Regions from separate parts of the Homo sapiens genome. Here region 2 is linked to region 1. Evidence: fine-mapped expression QTL. A gene starts in region 1. The other region holds a variant in brackets. All regions are shown on one strand. Distances are between the middles of the regions. Region 1 holds the start of LIMK1 (LIM domain kinase 1). Region 2 has its middle 39 kb from the start of EIF4H.

Evidence for each region. PIP is the estimated chance that this variant, and not a neighbour inherited with it, causes the effect.
Region 2: its variant is fine-mapped to the expression of LIMK1 in whole blood (INTERVAL, PIP above 0.99).

Annotation. Positions count from the first base shown.
Region 1 is chr7:74,082,458-74,085,354 of GRCh38, forward strand. LIMK1 (LIM domain kinase 1) reads left to right here and starts at 1,347. Exons shown (of 16, transcript NM_002314.4): 1 at 1,347-1,588. The coding sequence starts at 1,534. RefSeq lists enhancers at 47-725, 721-830, 726-1,404, 1,891-2,160, 2,672-2,897 and silencers at 1,101-1,370, 1,491-1,540, 1,651-1,700.
Region 2 is chr7:74,133,501-74,136,397 of GRCh38, forward strand. No RefSeq gene overlaps it. Among named protein-coding and RNA genes, the nearest start is that of EIF4H, 39 kb to the right of the region's middle. RefSeq lists an enhancer at 1-350. The variant A/G (reference allele first, on the strand shown) is at 1,180.

The DNA.
Region 1 (2,897 bases):
CTGTGCCCAGCCTTCTTTCTCATGAGAAATTAAAAATTCTGGCCAGGCGTGGTGGCTCACACCTGTAATCCCAGCACTTTGGGAAGCCGAGGAGGGTGGATCACCTGAGGTCAGGAGTTCAGGACCAGCCTGGTCAACATGGTGAAACCTCATCTCTACTAAAAATACAAAAATTAGTCGGTCATGGTGGTGCACGCCTGTAATATCAGCTACTCGGGAGGCTAAGGTGGGAGAATTGCTTGAACCTGGGAGGTGGAGACTGCGGTGAGCCGAGATCCCGCCACTGCACTCCAGCCTAGGCAACAGAGCGAGACCGAATCTAAAAAAAGAAAAAAAAAATCTAGTATTTTCTTCCCACCCCACGTAATTGTTTTGCACCCAGGGGTGAGTGCCCCCCACTTTGCAGACGTGCCTAGACCTCTCCCCACAAACATGATGACTAGAGTTGGAGCTGGGCTAGCGCTGCCTCTTGTTCACTGGGTTCACGTGGGCACGTGGCTCCACTCCGGTCACTGCTTCCTGGGCAGAGGGATGACGTGGAAGGTAGACCTAGGGGGGACAGGGTTGCTTCCTGCCCATGTCCAGCATTCTAGAATTGTCCACATCTAGGCAGGGCGTTCCACCATCAGTGCTGGACTGGACCACCCAATTCCTTTGGACGCTTGACTCAGCCCAAACCCGTGCTCCCTCCAGGACCCTGGGCAGGGCAGCCCCAGCTCCAGGTAATCGGCACTGAGAAGAGTACACCTGTCACCGCCTGGCAGGGGCTCGCTCCTTTCTCTGGTGCTGCTCATTCGCGAGGCCTGAGACGCGGACCGTCACCTTCCCCGGGCCCAGCCTGGCCTCAATGCAGGCCTCAGAGAGAGGGACAAAACCCGGCCCGCCTCCCTCCCCTCCCCAAGGCGACCACCAGTGTCCTGGGGGTCCACAGGGCCTCTCCAGCTCTGATCCGAGTTCCCGGCTGCAGCTGGTTTGGGTCTGTGGGGGCCTCGCGCAGGGAAGCGGAGGCCCCTTCTCTAGGCTCCTACATCCTCCTGGCCTGCCCCAGCAGAGCTAGCGGCCCTCCGAGACAGCTGGGCCTCGCAGCTCCCAGCCGAGGCCTGTCGCTGGGAGAAAGAAGAATGAATGAAGGGCGGAAGGGGCGGGGAGGGGCGGGGCGCGCCGCGCCAGCTCGCGGCGCCCCCAGGCCGGGCCGCAGCGGGGCGTGGCCTCTAGAGGCGTGGCCTTGGGCGTGGGGGCGGGGTTTTCTGGTGGGGGCGGGGCCGCGCAGGGCCGTTCCCGCCGCCGGCCGCCCGCGCCCCGCCCCCGTGCCGCAGCTCACAGGCCCCGCCTCGGTCCGCCCCTCCGCTCGCTCCCCAAGCCGCCGCGGCGCCGAGCCGGTTTCCCCGCCGGTGTCCGAGAGGCGCCCCCGGCCCGGCCCGGCCCGGCCCGCGCCCTCCGCCCCCGCCTCCCCGGGCCGGCGGCGGTGGGCGAGCTCGCGGGCCCGGCCGCCCCCAGCCCCAGCCCCGCCGGGCCCCGCCCCCCGTCGAGTGCATGAGGTTGACGCTACTTTGTTGCACCTGGAGGGAAGAACGTATGGGAGAGGAAGGTGCGCGGGCCGCGGGGTGTGGGGCGAGGGCCTGGAGGGGGTGCCCGGGGCAGCGTGGGGCACGGGAGGGGGCCGGGTCTGCCAGGAGGCCGCGCCCCTGCCTCCTCCGGGATGAGCTCGTCCTTACGAAGCCCGCAGGCCCCTCCCTGTCCCCCTCCCGCCCGGGATCCCCCTCCCCGGCCCCCGGCGAGCTGCCCTCCTGCGGGTCTGGGGGCCCCTGGACCCTTTTTCCTCCTCCCACGTCCCCCCGCGAAGGACTCCCAGACACTGCCCACCCCGCGTCGGCCTCCATCCGCGTGCTCTGTCCACCACCCGGGCCTCGCCCTGGGGCCACCCTTTATCCAGTCTCGGAAGAAAGAGCGGCTGGGGAAGCCGCAGCCCCGGGTCCCAGTGGCCGCCGGGCGCCTGCCCGGCTCTGTGACCTTGAGCCAGGCGCTGACTTCCTGGTCCTCAGTTTCCCCTTCTGTACATTTGGAAACTGGGTAGTTGCCCCCCCGGTGTCGGTGATTGGGGGCCAGATGGGTAGAGCGGAGATAGGCGTCCAGGAAGCCGGAGGCCGTGTACTGCGGGAGCCTCATCCACTCTCCCTGTCCGTGCCCCAAACCCGGTGCCTGCCCTCAGTCTTGGCTGGGAGCATGACTCATCCTAACCTCCTCTTTAGCCCCTTCTCCCTCACTGGGGCCCAAGGCGCAGTACTGCACTGCAGTTAGGGTTCAAGGACTCCCCCAGCCTAGGACAGGGTCTGGGGGCCCCTCCTTGGATCTCCTTCGCTGACCTGTCACTTAGATCCACCTGGCCCCAAGGCAGGGCCTGACTCCACACCTCCCCCTGCCACCAACTCTTCCCAGGCCCATGAAAACCTGATTGGGGTAGGGGCCCACCTTCCTGTAGCCCCTGCCTACCTAAGGTACCTGCGTCTTCACAGAGGGTCAGGCTGTTGTGGCCTTGGGACCTAGCTATGTGACTGGGCAAGCCATGCCATCTCTGGGGCTCAGTCTCCCCTTCTGTACAGTGGAGAGGGGCAGGTCTGGGGCATTTTCCAGGGCCCACCAGCTCCAAGGGTGCCAGGCCCCAAGGATGACTAAGCATGCCTGTGGCTGGCTAGAGGAGGTGCCAGGCCTCCCTGGGACAGGTGTCTGGGAGTACCCAGGTCTGCAGCCCCCTCCCCTTGCCAAGCCAGGGCATTCATTGCCAAGGATCTGTTAGGGCCGGCACCTCCAGGCTTCCTGCCCTTGACCTCCCAGCTGGCTTCAGCCCAGGATGCACTAATCCAGCCCTGTCCAGTCCCTGCCTTTGAAGGGCCCTCTTA
Region 2 (2,897 bases), 51 kb after region 1:
GAGTGATGGCATCTCGGCTCGCTGCAACCTCCGCCTCCTGGGCTCAAGTGATTCTCCTGCTTCAGCCTCCCGAGTAGCTGGGATTATCGGCATGTGCCACCACCCCTAGCTAATTTTTGTATTTTTAGTAGAGACGGGGTTTCACCATGTTGGCCAGGCTGGTTTCAAACTCTTGACCTCAAGTGATCTGCCCACCTCAGCCTCCCAAACTGCTGGGATTACAGACATGAGCCACTGCGCCCAGCCTGTTATCCTTTGTTTTTGGAAGGAAGCATTTGAAAAAGAGTGACTCTATCTTGAATAGGGGCTGGGTAAGATGAGGCTGAGACCTGCTGGGCTGCATTCCCAGTAGGTGAGACATTCTTATTCACAGGATGAGACAGAAGGTTGGCAGGACTGGTATCACAAGATACGGGTCACAAAGACCCTGCTGATAAAACAGGATGCTGACAGGGCACAGTGGCTCACTCCTGTAATCCCAGCATTCTGGGAGGCTGAGGCGGGCAAATCACTTGATGCCAGGAGATCAAGACCAGCCTGGCCAACATGGTGAAACCCTGTCTCTACCAAAAATACAAAAATTACCCAGACATGGTGGCAGGCACCTGTACTCCCAGCTACTCAGGAGGCTGAGGCAAGAGAATTGCTTGAACTCGGGAGGCAGAAGTTGCAGTGAGCCAGGATCGCACCACTGCACTCCAGACGGGGCAACAGAGCGAGACTCCATCCCAAAAAAAAAAAAAAAAAAGAAAACAAAAACAGGACGCAGTAAAGAAGCCAGCCCCAAAACCCACCAACAGTGATGAAACTGACCTCTGGTCATCCTCACTGCTCATTATACACTAATTATAATACATTACCATGCTAAAAGACACTCCCACCAGGACTATGACAGTTTACAAGTGCCACGGCAACACCCGGAAGTTACCCTATATGGTCTAAAAGAAGGAAGAACCCTCAGTTCTGGGAAATCCCTGCCCTTTCCTGGAAAACTCATGAATAACCCATACTTCGTTTAGCATAGAATGAAGAAATAACTGTAAGTATACTCAGTCAAGCAGCCCATGCCACTGCTCTGCCTATGGAGGAGTCACTCTTTATTCCTTTCCTATTCTTTTTTTTTTTTTCTTTTTCGAGACAGAGTCCCGCTCTGTTGCCCAGGCTGGAGTGCAGTGGCAC[A/G]ATCTTGACTCACTGCAACCTCTGCCTCCCAGGTTCAAGCAATTCTCCTGCCTCAGCCTTCCGAGTAGCTGGAATTACAGGTATGCACCACCACACCCAGCTAATTTTTGTATTTTTAATAGAGATGGAGTTTCACCAGGTTGGCCAGGCTGGTCTCGAACTCCTGACCTCAGGTGATCCACCTGCCTCAGCCTCCCAAAGTGCTGGAATTACAGACGTGAGCCACTGCGCCCGGCTATTCCTTTATTTTCCTGATAAGCTTGCTTTCAGGTCGGGTGTGATGGTTCACATGTGTAATCCCAGCACTTTGGGAGGCCTAAGTGGCAGGACTGCTTGAGCCCAGAAATTCAAGACCAACCAGCGCAACATAGTGAGACCATATTTCTATTAAAAAAAAAACAAAAACAAAAAAAACTTGGCCAACATGACGAAAACCTGCCTCTACTAAAAAAATACAAAAATTAGCCAGGAATGGTAACACATGCCTGTAATCCCAGCTACTCAGGAGGCTGAGGCAGGACAGTCACTTGAACCTGGGAGGCAGAGCTTGCAATGAGCTGAGATCAAGCCACTGCACTCGAGCCTGGGTGACAGAGCGAGACTCTGTCTAAAAAAAAAATACAAAATAAAAAAAAGAACTTATTTATGTAACCAAATACCACCTGTTCACCTGTTCCCCAAAAACCTGTTGAAACAAAAATAAATAAATAAATATAAAGAAATAATTTTTATTTATTTATTTTATTATATTTTGAGATGGAGTCCCGCTCTGTCGCCCAGGCTGGAGTGCAATGGCGCGATCTTGGCTCACTGCAAGCTCCGCCTCCCGGGTTCACACTATTCTCCTGCCTCAGCCTCCCGAGCAGCTGGGACTACAGGCGCCCGCCACCACGCCCGGCTAATTTTTTGTATTTTTAGTGGAGACAAGGTTTCACCGTGTTAACCATGATAGTTTCCATCTCCTGACCTCGTGATCCGCCCACCTTGGCCTCCCAAAGTGCTGGGATTACAGGCGTGAGCCACTGCACCCGGCCCCAAGAAATAATTTTTTTAAAAGCTGGGGTTTCCAAAAACCCTCTCCTGGAGTTAGATAATTTTCTAGAATGGCTCACAGAGCTCAGGGAAATACTTTACTTATGTTAAGTAATTTTTTTTTTATTTTTTATTTTTTGAGACTCACTCTGTCGCCAGGCTGGAGTACAGTGGCGCAATCCCAGCTCACTGCAACCTCCACTTCCTGGGATCAAGCGATTCTCCTGCCTCAGCCTCCTGAGTAGCTGGGACTACAGGCGCAGGCCACCACGTCCAGCTAATTTTTGTATTTTTAGTAGAGACAGGGTTTCACCGTGTTGGCCAGGATGGTCTCGATCTCTTGACCTTGTGATCACTCGCCTCAGCCTCTCAAAGTGCTGGGACTGATTACAGGCATGAGCCACTGCACCCGCTGCAACTAGTTTATTATATTCAAATTTTTTTACTTAAATTTTTTTTTTTTTTTTTTTTTGAGACGGAGTCTCGCTCCGTCCCCCAGGCTGGAGTACAGTGATACAATCTCGGCTCACTGCAACCTCCGCCTCCAAGGTTCATGCCATTCTCCTGCCTCACCCTCCCGAGTGGCTGGGACTGCAGGCGCGTGCCACCACGCCCGGCTAATTTTTTGTATTTTCAGTAGAGACGGAGTTTCACTGTGTTAGCCAGGATGGTCTCAATCTCCCAAT